Regions from separate parts of the Homo sapiens genome. Here all the other regions are reported to be linked to region 3. The links are microRNA targets in miRTarBase. Many come from high-throughput screens and were not tested one by one. Region 3 holds a microRNA gene; each other region holds the end of a gene's coding sequence. Distances are from middle to middle.
Evidence for each region. Region 3 holds the annotated microRNA hsa-miR-4742-5p (UCAGGCAAAGGGAUAUUUACAGA, at 1,661-1,683, opposite strand). A microRNA usually pairs through its seed, bases 2 to 8, with sites in the 3' UTR of a target mRNA and lowers its output. Matches are read on the target gene's strand: a 7mer-m8 pairs with bases 2 to 8, a 7mer-A1 pairs with bases 2 to 7 and ends in A, and an 8mer does both.

Region 1: the mRNA of IGSF8 is a reported target of hsa-miR-4742-5p. Seed matches in the 3' UTR shown: 7mer-m8 at 3,330-3,336.
Region 2: miRTarBase lists MORC2 as a target of hsa-miR-4742-5p. Seed matches in the 3' UTR shown: 7mer-A1 at 2,423-2,429.
Region 4: miRTarBase lists MXRA7 as a target of hsa-miR-4742-5p. The part of its 3' UTR that is shown has no 7-base or 8-base seed match.

The regions. Positions count from the first base shown.
Region 1 is chr1:160,088,223-160,092,222 of GRCh38, forward strand. IGSF8 (immunoglobulin superfamily member 8) reads right to left here. Exons shown (of 7, transcript NM_052868.6): 6 at 3,586-3,716; 7 at 3,121-3,386. The coding sequence ends at 3,601. KCNJ9 (potassium inwardly rectifying channel subfamily J member 9) reads left to right here. Exons shown (of 3, transcript NM_004983.3): 3 at 1-2,341. Among named protein-coding and RNA genes, the nearest start is that of IGSF8, 8.4 kb to the right of the region's middle.
Region 2 is chr22:30,923,446-30,927,445 of GRCh38, forward strand. MORC2 (MORC family CW-type zinc finger 2) reads right to left here. Exons shown (of 26, transcript NM_001303256.3): 26 at 1,685-3,426. The coding sequence ends at 3,358. MORC2-AS1 (MORC2 antisense RNA 1) reads left to right here. Exons shown (of 2, transcript NR_026920.1): 2 at 1,284-3,209. Among named protein-coding and RNA genes, the nearest start is that of MORC2-AS1, 3.1 kb to the left of the region's middle.
Region 3 is chr1:224,396,629-224,400,628 of GRCh38, forward strand. It overlaps MIR4742 (microRNA 4742), which reads right to left and starts at 1,683; the gene lies at 1,599-1,683. WDR26 (WD repeat domain 26) reads right to left here. Exons shown (of 14, transcript NM_001379403.1): 10 at 2,261-2,406; 11 at 1,887-1,965; 12 at 1,469-1,598.
Region 4 is chr17:76,677,419-76,681,418 of GRCh38, reverse strand. MXRA7 (matrix remodeling associated 7) reads left to right here. Exons shown (of 4, transcript NM_198530.4): 4 at 540-1,853. The coding sequence ends at 552. Among named protein-coding and RNA genes, the nearest start is that of MXRA7, 32 kb to the left of the region's middle.

The DNA of each region.
Region 1 (4,000 bases), 64 Mb from region 3:
TTTAAAAAGGAACCCTTTTCCTCCAGACAGATACAGCCCCAAACCAGGGTGCATGGCTTGGGGAGCAGAGTATAGGATGGATTGCAGTCCCCAGTCACCTCTTCTGCCAGCCTCCCCACATATGGCACAACTGTCTAATGACACGGTAGGCCAAGCTGAAGTGAAGGAGAAAGGAGCCGGACCAAGATGGGCACATGAGGAGGGTGCCCTCCTAGCTCCACCCTCACCAGGATGAAGGCGTGCAAGGGGCTCAGCAAGGTGTGAATGACCTTAGTCCGCAAGTTCAGGGAAGCAGGCAGAGCGGGGAGGTGCCTGAGCTGGGGCCTGGAGAGGGGCCTGGGAAAGGAAAACCAGGGATAGCTATTTTCTTACAGTGGAGTGAGATCTTACAGGTATCAGGCACAGGCAGGAAGAGAGAGAGAGAGGTTCTGGGGAGGAAGGGCCAGGAGAGAGATCTAGAAAGTGGGTTCACTAGAGCTGGGAAACAGGGAGCCCCTAGGAAAGCAGTGTGTCCTTGGGGCACAGTCATTCACATCACTGATTGGGTGCCATGTGGAGTGGACATTCAAAAACCTGGTTCCTGTCCTCAAAATAAGGGGCACCTGGGAAAACAGAGGAATCTACCTGTGGTGACTGAACGAGGGATAATTCAAACTGACAACCTGTGCAGTCCCGTGGAGGGTAGGGGAGTGTGGGTGATCAGAAGGCTGGGGCCAGTGTAAGGCATAGGGAATATGTAAGTCAGGAGTTAGAAATCTCCAGTGTGCGTTGGAATCACCTGGAGGGCTTGGTAAAACACAGATTTTTGGGCTCCACTCCAAGGGTTTCTGACCCAAGAGGTGGGGACCAAAACCATGCATTCCTAAGAAGTCCCCAGGTCATGCTGCTGTTGCTGGACTGAGGACCACACTTTGAGAACCTGTGCTCTAAGTGAATACTTGGAAGTCGTTTCAGGACATGGGGCATAGAAACTGAGGAGTAGCTGAGAGGAAGATGAAGAGAAGCTGAGAAGAAGCTGAGGATCCTCACAGGAGCAGACAGAGAAATGTGAAGGGTGGGGTTTTATGTGTGGGAAAGGGACCCGAAGCCCAGGCTGAAGAGTTTAACTTTGGGCCCAGAAACTCAACCATCAATGGAAACAGGGCAGTGACAAGTGGAGGGGGTGTCTGGAAGCTGAGCAGGCCCGACAGAGAGATGAAGCCATCAGAAGGACTTGAGGGGGCTCCTGGGGAGGTCGGGGGGAGGTGGAGCAGGAAGAGTTTTAGGGGCAAAGGACAGAACCCCTTGTAGGACTGGAGGCAAGATTGAATGTGGGAGAAAATCGGAGAGAAGCGATAGGAGTTAGAACATCTGGATGTGTCTGCAGCCTGCTGTCAGCCCAATTGGGCCAGGGGGTCCCAAAGACGCATATTCTCACCCCACCTCCACCTGCTTCCTGATCACATCCCAGTCACCAGCGGCAGCTTCCTGGATAGTGAGGGAGAACAACTGCAAGTTGAGAGAGGCAGAGGGGTGGAAGGGACCTGAAGCTGGCCTGGAGAAAAGCATAGGCCCAGGAGAGCCTGCCCTGGGACAGCGCCTGTCTCCCACACAGCAGCACTGGCCCAGCAAGGACCTCCTCCCTTGGCCCTGGCCACATCCCACTCCTGCCCTTTCATAAGCCCCCTGGGGAAAGCACTCCAGTCTTCTCTGTTCCAGGCTGGGCAGATAGGGTCCTATGGGGCACAGCCAGGGTCCTATGGGCATAGCCAGGGCCCTATGGGTCCTCTGGAAGCAAGAAAGGGGGCCATGGAAGCAGCCCAGACAGCTGGGGTTCACTCAGAGAGGACCCAAGTCCCAGTCCCTTCCTTTCAGTCAAAACACGGATATCTTTGCCTCAGGTCACAGGGCCACTGGGGCCCTGTCATCAAAGATGAGATTCCTGAAGCCTGGCATTGACTGGTCCCCTAAGAACAGATGTTGGGATGGAGAATGGGGATTCATTTGGGTTTCAGTAAAACAGGGGGGTCTGGACAAGAGCGGGTGGGCTACTTGGTATCCACACACACGCACTCACACAGGAGCCAACCCATTGCAGCTGAACAAGCAGAGAAACTCAGTCTGGAAAGGCCCCTCCTGCCTGCTGAAGTCACTGAGACCCTGCCACACCTCTCCTCGCCACTGTCACCACTCAGGGCACCACTGTACAGTGCAACAAGTCAGGAGACCTAGGTCCTACTCCTGACACTTGCTAATTAGCTCTATGACTCTGGGCAAATCGCATATCTGGGCCTCAGTTTCCTCATCTGTAAAAATGACAGCAAACTCGTAATGCTCAATAAATGTTTAAATAACAACTGAAGGAGGCCTGCCAGATGCCTCTTAAGGTGCCGTGCAGGTAAGAATTTTAGGATCAGAGAATCCTTAGGCAAGAAAATTCATGAAACTCCTGGGGCACTGGAGGAGGGGTGAAGCTGAAGGGTGGGAGGGAGGAGACCCCAGGGTAGGTACAGGCAGGTGAAGCGGGTATATGCAGGTGTAGTGGGTATATGCGGGTAGAGGGTATATGCAGGTACAGCGAGTACATGTGGGTGCAATGGCTCTGTGGACACACAGGCCCTCCCCTGACTGCCTGTTGTCCCAGCCTGAGTATCAGTTGTGTTCTGAGGCTTCTATTCTGCTGCTATGGGTCAGAAGGAACAACAATTTCAGCCCCAGGGCCTAGTGGGAGGAGTCAGGTCCAAGACTAGCCTGACCAGGAGAATGAGACGTGGGAAGAGTTGGGGAAAGTCTGGGAAGCTCAGAAAAGGCACTGCCCCTGGAGGCCCATGCCCTTTAACATGGGAGAAGCTGGTGCGGGGGTGACCACAGGCAGCTGGAACCTACCCTCCTTTTCTATGCTTCCCTCCCCAAGTAGGAGTCCAATCAGGAGTTGTCTCAGCCCCGACAGTTCAGGCTGCAGATGGAACCCAGGTGTCCCCTCCTGGGGTGGGTGGCATGGCCCATGGAGGCCAGATGGTGTTTGTGGTGGGAAGAGAGGCCTGGGTCATCCAGAATAGGTTGTCAATCCCCAACCACCTCCCTACTATGCACCCTGAGCGTTTTACAGTCTCATGGTAGGGAAGACACAGCCAAGCCTGCTTTTTATAAAACAAGTTTATTCACATTTTAGAAAAACTAATTCCAGGACAGGAAATGGCCTCCCTATAGGATCCCTAAGAGATCAAGAACAGAAGGCCAGAGGGAGGGGCTTGGGAGGGAAGGAGTGGGGAAGGGGAGGCACGTCTCCCATTCTGGGTAGTGGGAGGTCAAATAAATTAAAGGAAGAGTGGACAGAGGGAGAGGGTGTCCAGGCAACCAGAGGAGGGCTTGGAGCTGGGCCGGAAGACAGTCGACACCTGCAAGACCTGAAAAGGGTGCCCGGTGTGGGCTAAGGACAGAGAGCCCTGAGTGGGGCTCCCTCGCGGCCTCCACCCCTTAACAGGGCCCTGTGGATCTGAGCTGCCTACTCCTCCTCCAGGTGGGGCCTGGGAGGGAGCAGCTTGGTTCAGGACTTGGGGGTGGGAAGCCCAATGAAAACAAGGTTGGGGGGTTCTTTTCCCTCACCTGGGGAGTAAGGGATCACCGTTTTCGAAGCCTCTTCATGAAGCAGCAAGTGATGGTACCAAGGACAGTGGCACCAGTGACTAGGGCCACCCCTGTACCCACCAGCAGAGGCACAAATAGGGTGTCCAGGGCTGGGGGAGAGAGGATGACTGTTCAGAGAGGATGCCATCATCCTCCACCCATACACTTGCCTCTGCGCTTTCCCCATCAAGTTCTCTGAACCCACCTTCTCCATTCACAGACACCCCCATCCCTGCCCACAGCCTGCCCCCTCAGCATGCAAGTCAGCATCAACCACAGAGGACCCCGTGCAGGTGGGCACTGCAGGGCTGGAAGTTGGATTTTTTGAGACTTCATGTGACATAATGTGGAGGAGAGAGATAGTAGCAGGAGGGTCAGAAGATGGGAAGGGAAG
Region 2 (4,000 bases), not on the chromosome of region 3:
TAGCAGGTAGGGGCCAGTGAATCTTGGAAGCAAAGATTTGGGGGTCAAGAACAGCAGGGAGCTCTGGGCCCCCATCCTAGCTTCAACCAGAGCAGCTCCAGGACTCCTGGCTTTCCATATGGGCTTCTGGATAAATTTTAGGTACTCCTGAGGCTGAATAAGCTGGAAAGCCTCTGCCATCACCCAACTCCGTTATTTTAGAGGAGGAACAGGAGCCAAAATGGGCAGTGACTTGTCTGAGGCCTTGCCAGCTTGAAGAAGGAAATGTCCGCTGAACCCAACAGTGGCCCTGGTAAGGCCTGGTGCATTGCAAGTTACCGGATGAAAATGGTGACTGGCCGGGTGCAGTGGCTCATGCCTGTAATCCCAGCCAAGGCGGGCAAATCACTTGAGATCAGGAGTTTGAGACCAGCCTGGCCAACATGGTGAAACCCTGTCTTTACCAAAAAATACAAAAATTAGCTGGGCATGGTGGCACGCACCTGTAGTCCCAGCTACTTGGGAGGCTGAGAGGGGAGAATCGCTGGAACCCAGGAGGTGAAGGTTGCAATGAGCCGAGACTGTGCCACTGCACTCCAGCCTGGGTGACAGAGCAAGAGTCCGTCACAAAACAAACAAAAACAGAAACAACCCCAAATGTCCGTAAGTAGGAGACAATATATCCAACACATGAAATGCTCTGTGGTTCATGAGAATAAAGAAGACCCATATGGGTTATTCTGAAGCAGGTTCCACTACACTAAGCTGCACTAAGTAGTTTTAACAGGCAGAAATGGAACAGAGTGGAAGTGCGTGCACTTAGGAGGGATACTCTCCAGGGAGAATTCAGGGATTGGGTGGGAGAAGGGAGCCTTGCTTTTCATGGTCCAGCCTTTTAGACGGTTTTAATGTTTACCATGTGCATGTTTCACTTAAAAACCAAACACCCTAGGTGAGGCATGGTGGCTCACACTGTAATCCCAGCACTCTGGGAGGCCGAGGCAGGTGGATCACTTGAGCTCAGGAGTTTGAGACCATCCTAAGCAACATGACGAAACTCTACCAAAAATACAAAAAAAATTCGCCAGGCATGATGGTGTGTGCCTGTGGTTCCAGCTACCTGGGAGGCTAAGGTGGGAGATCACTTGAGCCTGGAAGGCAGATGTATCAGTGAGCCAAGATCGTGCCACTGCACTCCAGCCTAGGTGACCAGGGCGAGACCCCCATCTCAAACAAAACACCCTAGAGTCCCCACCCCTCTCGTTCTTTAAACACCAGCATTGCTGCCCTTCACTTTCTTGCAGCCTTGTGCAAAGGACCTTCTCACCACAGATCAGCCAGACCATCTTCCTCCTTCCAAGTCATCAAAGAGTTCCAAGCTGGTCACCTGTCCCTTGATGTTCCCAGGAAACCAGGAAAGAGGACCCCTGCATTTTATCTTCCCATCCAGAGTGGCAGGATCTCTGCCTGGGAAACAGGCTTCATTCAGCACAGCTGTGGTAGCATTAACAAAGCAAAGTGGGCACATGTAGAAGTTGAAGCTAAAACATTCAAGAACTCCAGTCTGTTTCTGTGGATGTTAAGGGGGTGAAGATAAAACAATGGAGGTGATGAGGAGGAATAACTTGAAGACAGTTTAAAGCCACAGTGATACAAAGAATGAAGAGAAGGAAGGTGCTGGATTTTACTAAGAAAACAGACTGAGTTCAGGAGTCTCACCAGTAGAACTTTATAGTATTGCGTTTCGATTACATGTGTGTGAATTTTAAAAACTGATTACCCTCCAGTAAAAATGTGGAACCAATTTGCATTTGGATTAAAACATTAGGTTTGGGGACAAAAGTGGACCCCATGCTGCCTGAGATGAAGAGAGAGAGCAGGATGGCAGAGGAATCACCAGCTCAAGAAACCCCAAGACTTGGACAGTCTTCCAGCAGAAGAGGCCAGGGTCTCTCAGTGTACTACTCCAAACAGGCCTCTCCTAGAGATGTAGTCTGGGAAGGTCCAAAACCCACCAGACAGGCACATCCAGTGGGGAAAAGACTTCCCATTCCAGTGTGGCCTGCATCCCTCACCTCTGCTTCCCAGTCTTCTGCTGACCTCAGAGGAGCAGGGTGGCCATTGCTGATCTGGGTTAGGGAGATGCCAGAAACACACCCAGGTTTGAACCACAGGTTAGTGGTACAAAGTCACAGTCCTTGTGCCTTCAGAAAACCCAGAGGCCCCAAATACGAGTGGGAAGAGAGTTGGGAAAAACTGAACCAGACTCTTCCAATGGCCATTAAAGAGAAAATTCAGCAACGCTTGCCTTTGTCTTTGACCCTGAGAAGTTAAGGGACACAGATTGTGGCGCCGTGATGGAACATGGAGGGAAGGCATGGTGTGCTTCCTGCAGAGATGCCTCTGGAGTCCCTGTGGCCACGGGATCTCACTGGCCCCCTCTTCAGGCACCTTGATGGGGCTCAGTGGGGCCAGGCCGAAGGGTGGAAGTAGAAAAGCATCAACAGGCTGTCCAGATCAATTGGCACCATCCAAGGCCCTGCTGCACCCACACATGGAGGTCACCAGCTCAGCCCCAGGGGTTCTTTCACACACAAGCTCCTTCCCTAAGGAGTCCTGTGGGGTTCCACACTCAGTGTGCTGCCCAAGTCAGAGATTTACCACAGATCTGTCTCCCCCTCAACCTGGACTCAAGTTACTGTGGTGAGAAACCTCACTGTCCATGGTTAACTGAAGAAATCCCTCCTTCAGAAAGAACTTGAGTAGTAGATGAGGTGGTTAGACAGGATCTTTTTCCCTCAAGCTGTTTGGACGCCACAGCCAGGACCAACTCTGACAGCTGCGAGAGAGAGAGCCCCTCCAATGTGGAACCTCCTACACAGCCCCCCTTTTGGGTCCCTGGATATGAGCCCCCAGCAGGACCACCACTCTAGGGGGAAGTCTCCCTCCCATCCCTCAGATCCCCACATTGTTCCTCCTGTAGGAGAAAAGTCAGCCCTGCCCCTGGAGCTTCTCCAAGATGGCACTGGACTCGCCGTTATCTTGAGGAGCCAGGAGCTGAAATGGCTCCGGCTTAGCAACCCAGTATGGCCAAAGTGGAAAGGTTCTCTGTCCTTTGCAGTCACCAAAAAAAAAAAAAAAAAAAAAAAAAAAAAAAAAAAAGTATGGTCTCACAGGCACAGCATCTTCTTTTAAAAAATAAATATTTATAAACTTAAGGAAGATTCAAAGAATCAGGGTATCTTTTCCTCCAAAAACACAAATGTCCCGTGTAAGTCAAACCAAGGTGCGACCACCAACCCATGAATGAAGTCCCCTCCCCCTGCAGCTACAGGGTTGAGGGGCAGGTGGGCAGGGGAGCTGCTCTCTCTCCTGCCTTCAGTCCCCCTTGGTGATGAGGTCCTCAATGTAGGCGTCCAGCTCATCATCTGTGTTGATGTCTATGTCCTGGAATAGAGCAGGGTAGGGATCAACTGGGGGCCAGAAAGTGATTGGGGGGCTCACCTTTCCACCCTTCTCTCAGCTCCTGGGATGGAGCCCAGAGTCCTCTCCCTGACCTCCCACCCCGCCCTGGATGTCAGGCTTCTGTCCTGTCTTAATCACTCTCCCCTCCCTCATCTATTGTGCACAGATGATGCCCAGATTTCCTACGCCCACCCTGCCTCTACCCCATGTTCCCAATTGTCTTAGATGTATATTTCCCTCAGATACTACAAATATGCCCACTTCTCTCCCTTCTCTGTCACTGCCCAAGGTCCAGGCCACCACTGTCTCAGACAACTGTGGGAGCCTCCTCACAGGAGGCTCTGGTTCTAACTTTGACCCCTCCAGGCCTCCTCCAACCAAGCAGGTACATGTCTGAGACTGAAAACTGCATCATGCCACACCCCTCCAGTGATCTCCACTGTTCTCGGGATCAAACCCCACAACTTTCAAGCCCTGCCTCTGCCCCTACCGCCCCCAAGTCCCTGCTCAGGCCTCAAGTCCTGCTCTTCTTCCTTCTGCCTGGAATGCTCGTGTC
Region 3 (4,000 bases):
TCTCATCTGACGCTGATTTTCGGTAGAAAGAAAGAATTGATGAATTCAGGCTGGGCGCGGTGGCTCATGCCTGTAATCCCAGCACTTCAGGAGGCTGAGGCAGGTAGACTGCTTGAGCTCAGGAATTCAAGACCAGCCTGGGTAACGCGGTGAAACCCCATCTCTACAAAAATTTGTTGGGGCTACTTGAGGGGCTGAGGAGGGAAGGACTGCTTGAGCCCAGGAGGTGGAGGTTGCATCAAGATCGTGCCATTGCACTCAAAAAAAGAAAAGAAAAGAAAAGAAAAGAAAAGGAATAGATGAATTTATATGCTTGATGTTAAAATCTAAATCTCTAAATGTCTCTCTTTGTCCCAATCCTTAAATATGCCTTATTCTTAAAGGTAAACCTCATGTGCACTTTATGATCCTCTTATCTACCAAGATCAGTTTTTTGTCAAGATAGGGATAGTAAACATCTTATACAATAAATGGAACATAACATAATCTAATTCCTTGGTCTATCTTATAAAACCAGATTCAGTATATATTTTTTTACTTTTTGTAGAGACAGTGTCTAGCCATGTTGCCCAGGTTGGTCTGGAACTCGTGGCCTCAAGCAGTACTCCCATCTAGGCCTCCCAGAGTGTTGAGATTACAGGTGTAAGCCATCATGCCCGGCCAAAAAAAGTGACTTAAATAATTTGCTTTTATAGTACCTAGAAATGTACAGTGGGTATTGAAGAAAAATGTGTTGAATAAAAACTTGCAATAATTTGCCACTAGTTAAGTTCCTATCGCCTTAAAAAGTACACTAATTTTTATTACTGCCTCACTTATTTGTGCTTGCATCTTCTAAACAATTCACACTTTAGAGTGACTTTAGGCATATTCCTGTCTGGAATACTGACACTTTTAGATTAGAGAACAAGTTTATTCAAAAGGGTAGTAGTAGGAAGAATAATTTCAGCTTTCCTAAAATCTTAAGAATTATCAAACTCAATTATAACTCTGGTGACCGCTGAAGAAATACTGAAGAACTAACTATAGTCAAATCTGTCCAAGTTCAGGTAGAGCATCATAATTAACCTTGATTTTTCAGATACTACCAACCCTTAAAAACCATCAGTCCCATGAAAATACAAGTCAACATATGAAAGTATAATAATTTAACTAAATCTTGATTAGACACATGCACCAAACACACTGCTACGTGGTCAGAATAAGCACTGCTAATCCGTGACAATACATGACAATATGGAGGGCTTAGGTCATTACAGAAAAGGAGAAAGTAATACATGACAGCATGTGACAATTTGTGATAATACAGGGGCTTAGGTCATTACAGAGAGAAATTAACCGTGTATTGGATAAATGAAAGAATTTTAACTTACTACCCTGAATTTTCTTGGAGACATGACTGCCTTCATAAATTGAGATTTACAGACTTTAATATCAACATATGTAAACTGATAAGGACACAATTTACCTTCACTGCCACTAGCGATGAAGTCTTCATTATGGCCTCCAAAACATGAATGAATTGTATAAAACCCTTGTGTAACACCTTGATACTTTCTTACTAAAACTCTGTCTTGCAAGTCCCATAAATGAACTCCCTGCAGGCAAAGGAGAATACAGATATTTAATCTGCCTCAACTCAAACAAATTTTAAAAAGTATCTGTAAATATCCCTTTGCCTGATGAAATATCTTCATTTTCTATTATGCAAAATACCAACATTCTGACAAATTTATGGTTGATTATACACATTTAAGGATCAATCACATGCAATCAAATTTAAGGGTAAGTAGAAAATTTTGTTAATATAAATACACTGAAAATAACAGTTAAAATAAAACTTGTACTAAGCCAAATTTTTCAGAAAATTATACTAATAAACATACCTGAGTTGCTACATTTAACAAAGCTAATCGGCCATTTTTTGAAATAGTAAAAGACATAATAGGATGATCTTCTTGTACTCTGGAACCAGAAAATAATTTGTCAAAAACAACATATTAACAGTCAAGACATTCAAATTATCAATACATAAGATGTGCTAGCTTAAGTATGACAATTTTGCCTGCAATCACTATTACATACTATACTTCAATTGAGAAGAATCTGAGTTACTGATTACTAAGTACCATGTGACCTTCAATCCAAATTACCACGCAAACCAAAACGAAAAACATAAAAACTGTGAAAAGGCAAGTTCCACTACACATTTGAATATAAATCAGGTAATTGTTGTTTAATGGAAACAAAAAATAGTTACATGTTCCTATCTGTAAGGTCCTCGAAGTTATAGCCCCGAATTCGCTGGTGTGTATCTGATGCCAGAACAGTCTTTCCATCACTCAAGCACCAAAGGCATTGCACTCTTACCCCTTCCCAGGAGTCAAGGAGATTACCATCTAAGTCCTGAGTAAGAAAAAACTACTATTAACTTCATTACTCAACAGCACTCAGAAAGCAAATAAAGAACCAAAAGACTCCCTTCACAATATCTTTTAGTAACAGGTTTTTTTTTTTTCCTGAGACTGATCTCAACCTAATTGTTCTAGAAGTGTTTTTAACCATGAAAATTTGAATATAGTTCAAATTTCATTACAACCATACTTAAGGGAAAGCAGAGAGACACTTTGTAGCTCTATCTTCCCTTCAATAACTCACCATGCATAAATAACACAAAGAAAGAAACAGTCCCTAAGTTCCAAGTAAGGTCTTACTTTTATTCAAAAACAATTTAAACGTTCCTTTAAAATTCACTATACTGGAATTTGTCCTAATATTTAGGAGTTGTGAAATGGAAAAAGATTCTAAAACATTTTACAGCTTCATACAGACTGGAGGAATCTGTTAATGACATTTTTCAAAAATTTACCAAATTTGTAATGTGCTCTACAGATCAAAGCTCTTATAGTCATTATCTCATTGAATATCCAAAGTTCTGAGAGGAACAACCCTTCCCATTTTATAAGTTAGATAATCCTGTATCTTGATGGCTTAACACAGTATAGGACAGCAAACTCAGCAGAAACATACATGATCATCTTGCACGCAGGGAATTAAGAACAATTCATAACCATATTGAGATAATATAACACCAAAATCCATGTGTTCCAAACGAGCTTAATAAAAGAAACTGATAACCTGTTTTAGCTAAATTAAATGATTTATTATCTTGTTTTAGTTTAAAAAATTGATCTGGGGTCGGGTGTGGTAGCTCATGCCTATAATCCCAGCACGTTGGGAGGCCAAGGCGGGAGGATCATTTGAGCCCAGAAGTTTGAAGCTGCAGTGAGCCATGATCACACCAATGTACTCTAGCATGGGTGGCAGAGAGCAAGACCCTGTCTCTTAAAAAACAACAAAAAAAATGTGGACGTGCATACTGGGACCATGTGAGTCTGTAATATGAGACACAGAATCTAGACTACACTGCAAGTAACAGAGAAAGTTTTATGGCAAGGTAAACAATGATTTATGATATAAATGATACTTATGATATAAAGTTTACCTTGCCATAAAACTTATTTTTATCATTCCAACAATTCAAAATAATTAGGGCAGCTACTTATTAGAAGCTGACACAAAGATTGAAAAGTACTCTGGTAGCACCTGTCACCACTTTTATTATTCAAATATTAAAGGGAGTCTACTCATAAAATTCAGTGTTTTTTTTTTTTGGTTACAAAAATCTCAAAAGAAATTTAAAAAATCTTTTCAATTCTTATAAATTAGAAACTTGCTCATAAAAACAAAAATGTTTAGCAAAACACATTTTTTTGTTCTACTAAATCCAAAGTCTATACTTTGTACAAACATTTGAAATGTTTAAAAGAAAGGAAAAAAATGACCCAGAAAATTCTATTGGACAGCGCTTGTCTACGACGACAGCAAAGTAGGTGTTCATAGAGTATATTTTGTTTTATTTATGTATTTTTTTGAGACAGAGTTTCACTCTTGTTGCCCAGGCTGGAGTGCAATGGCGCGATCTTGGCCCACTGCAATC
Region 4 (4,000 bases), not on the chromosome of region 3:
AGAGGGCGTCAGAGGGACAAGATCAGACCTGCTGGGTTCTCAGTGGTCCCAGGGCTGGCAGTGTGTCTTGGTTCATAAAAGACGGGCATGCAGTTGGCTCCATCTGGAAGCGTGCATCCTAGGGTGCCAGTATCCCCCGAGGGGACAAAACTCAGCCAGCGGGAATGGGAAATTATCTAGGGTGATAGGAATATTGTCAGCACAACCACACAACCCAAGATCAGAAAGGCCCTTGGCAACTCAAATGCCCAAGTTCCTTCCTTAAGTACCCTGCAGAGGCTGAACAGGGTCTGTGGGCTGCCAGGTTCTGTGCGGGATCAAGGGGAGCTCTGCAAGCTCTGGCCGGCTTGGCGGCACAGACTGTCTTGCTGCAAGCGATGAGAAGCAAATCAGCAGTGGTTTGAGAAACCAGAGTCTAGCGCAGCTTCTGCAATTCCAAACATTCTCCTTCCTCGTCCCCATTTCCCCCTTTCCTTGCCCATGGTGCAGGATGGAATGAGTAAAATAAATTATCTTTTTCTCCCCATTTCTCTTTACAGAACTGAAGAATAACGAAGTTATCCTTAGCGTCCTCCTAAAGGCTTTTCCTTTTGGCATCTTAAAAGCTTGAGAGATAAAACGGAAACCCCAGAGAGGAGTCTGGGCAGGCTCCCAGGGTGCATGCTGCCTCCATAAATCTGCTGAGCTCTAGACCCTCAATCAGGACTTGTCCCTTGGCTAGCAGGATCCTGGGAACACCTTTGGCCCTGCCCTGTGTAGAGATGTTCATGTCTGTTCCTGTGGGTCACTTTGTTAAGCTGAAGAGTTTTAAGAGGTAGAGCTCAGACCCTGGACTGGGATTTTTCTTACCACTCAAACTTGCTATCCACACACCCTGCACACCTTAGATAAAAAGAACATTTTAAAAGCAGAGTTCACTTTCACTCCAGTCTCCCCTCTTTTGCCCTCACTGAAGCCAAACCACAGAAGACTTTGAGGAATGAGAGACAAATGAGGTAGAGCTCACCTGTGCTCACCAGCTCCGTCAGGGTGGTCAGCCGACCCCTTTCCCTGGGAACCCCACTTCTCTCTGTGGCTGGCTTGGTTGTCGGGGGTGAGATGCCATATTGATTACAGGGCAGCAAAGAACCAGTACCAGGAATTTACTTGACCATTCCCCTTATTTTTCATCTAGAGGAATCTCGGATTCAGCCCTTTCATTGCTAAGACACCTTTTCACTGAGGTTCTTACCAGCTCAGCCAAATCTCCACTCTGCTATAGCAGAAGCAATAATGTTTGCTTTAAAAAGATTTCTTGACCTATGCCTTTTCTTAGAAAGTTTGATAGATTAGTTAGAACTTCAGATCATCAGATCAGTCTCAAATGGGTTTCTTGGAATTTTATATTTGACAATATTTATACTATACCAAACTCATTTGCAGTTCTTAGGTTTGTTGGTTAAAACATTTTTTTAAAGCAGTAAGTTTATAGAAAATGTTTTCATTTAATGGAAGGCTGGGGAATGTCCAGCATCAACCCCTATGGCATGCATTCCCAGGGGCCTTCTCATCTGGGCCTGGAACCTTTGGTTCAGGGCTTAGGGGAGAACAGGCCACATGGCAACAGCCACACAGTCATTGCCTTCAACACAGAGCCACGTGTCCCCAAACAGCAATAGTCATGCCCTTGTCCAGGCTGGGATCTAATTGACACAATAGGTCGTTGACTCCCTCCTAGTAGAGCTATCTAGGTTTGTCTGGAAAGTTTCCGACCCTGGCTTATAGGCACCACACCTCATGTACTCCTCATGGCTTGGATCTCTGTATTCAGCCTTTGTTCAGTCCAATAAACTTTGAGTAGATGATCTCAATTACTGTGTGTTTTTTCAGTTTGCTTTGTTTTAAAACAAAATCCCTTTTGAACCCATTGAAGTTTGACCTTTCTTTCATTTTGATGCCTCTTACTCTGCAGCAGAGTACAAAGCCATACATCCACCCTGTTAAAAAATATGCAGTCACCATGGCTGTCAAAACCACATGACATGATCTGTGTTCACTCAGGGACATATGGATTGTGCTTCCATCCACAGAGCTCAGCACATCCTTTCTGTTCACGGGAATTCCTCTTCTTCTTCTTTTTTTTTTTTTTTTTGAGACAGGGCCTCCCTCTGTTGCCCAAGCTGGAGTGCAGTGGTGCAATCACAGCTCACTGTGGCCTGGACCTCGTGGGCTTAAGTGATCCTCCCGTCTCAGCCTCCCAGGTAGCTGGGACTACAGGTGCTCACCACCACACCTGGCTAATTGTTTTATAGAGACAGAGTCTGACTATGTTGCTCAGGCTGGTCTTGAACTCCTGGGCTCAAGTGATCTTCCCATCTTGGCCTCCTAAAGTTCTAGGATTACAGGCATGAGCCACTGCACCTGACCCTCTTTCTTCTTACAGGAGGGCACAAAGCACACATCATAGGCTGCTGCTTCACCAGACAGGGGAACCGACTGTAGACACAGCTTTCCCAGGGGACAAGGGAGGCTGGGAAGTGGGACTTCAGTATTTCAACTACTAGATGCTGCTCTAGACAGAAAATTTTGCAGGATGGAAGATGCGGGGCTGAGGAGAGGAGGGAAGGGTGAAGCAAAGGAATATGGTAGCAAAAGTATGGGAGCGAACGTGGAGACCACCCCTCCAGGCAGTGTGGGGGATGCCAGTGGCCCAGGGCTATGCTGAGGTCCTGCGGTTGCAGAGCCTGTAACGTGCTTACAGCCGACCCAGCTGCAGAGCAGGGCTGAGAGGTCCGACACTGTGATGTGGTTTACGTTCTCTGAAGGCACTGAGCCCGTGGTGTGTGGGGGGCAGGAACTGCAGAAACCAGAAGAGTGAGATGCAGCCAGGATGCAGTGCCCGGCTGGGCTGAGGAGCACAGGGCACCAGAGTGGAGCAAACAACAAACATATGGCTCCCTGGGTTCGGCAGCCGCCTCGCCCCACCTGAGGTGTTTGTGCTGCAGAAGTTGTCCTGTGCTGGTCAGATGGTGTAGCTGAGCCTCATAAAGATAACAAGACATTGCTCCCAGCACAGAACCCGCGTGGAGCAAACATTTAGGCCAGTCTTCCTCCACACCCATCCCTTGATAAAAGGGGCAGGGCCGCCACCTGCCATAGGGTATCTTGTGCAAATTAGGAAAAGGCACCCCCCTTTCTCTGGCCAGTGAAACCCCACAGGCTTCCCTCCCCGCTCCTTTGCCAAGCACCGTCTTGCACACACTTGTATGCTCCCTGATTTCCCAGCTGATAATGTTTTTTCTTTCTCCACTTTCGGCTCATTCCTCTCAACGAAGGCTGTTTCTAACCTACTTCTTCATAGCACTACCTCAAGCTGCTTCATGGAGCCTATCTTCTTCCTCATTACATCACTGTGGGACATGCAGTCAACAATCAAATGAGGCCCAAAGGGAAACTGAGGCACAGAGCACCTAAGTGATACCTGGGGTCCCCAAACCTCCCCGGCAAACCTGAGATTTCGCATCCCAGTTTTTAGAGCCCTCAAAAGTTGCGTGTGTCAGACCCAACCAGCTCCGATGTTCTAAGTGGGTTTTATTTTCATTTTCTTCTTGTTCTGAAAAGCAACCGCAGTCACACAAGAGAGAGGAGAGTCCCAACTCCGCCGGCTGCACACAGGCTCCCTCTCTCCCCAGTGGGCTAGGAGCACCTTCTTCCTCTTTGTCCTTTCTTCTCGACAGAGTTCAGAAGGAACAGCTGGCTGCCATCTTCAAGCTCATGAAAGACAACAAGGAGACGTTTGGCGAGATGTCCGACGGCGACGTGCAGGAGCAGCTCCGGCTCTACGACATGTAGACTGCGCCCACGGGATGCACAGCGGCCATGCCTGATGCTGTCCCCACCCTTGCCCCATGCCCTTGTTCTTTCCAGACTTCTGTAGGCCTAATTTTCCCTTATAAACATAGATGCAGGCGTACATTCTATAGGTACTTGCCGAGTTCTTGCAGTGTGTATATTACTTTGC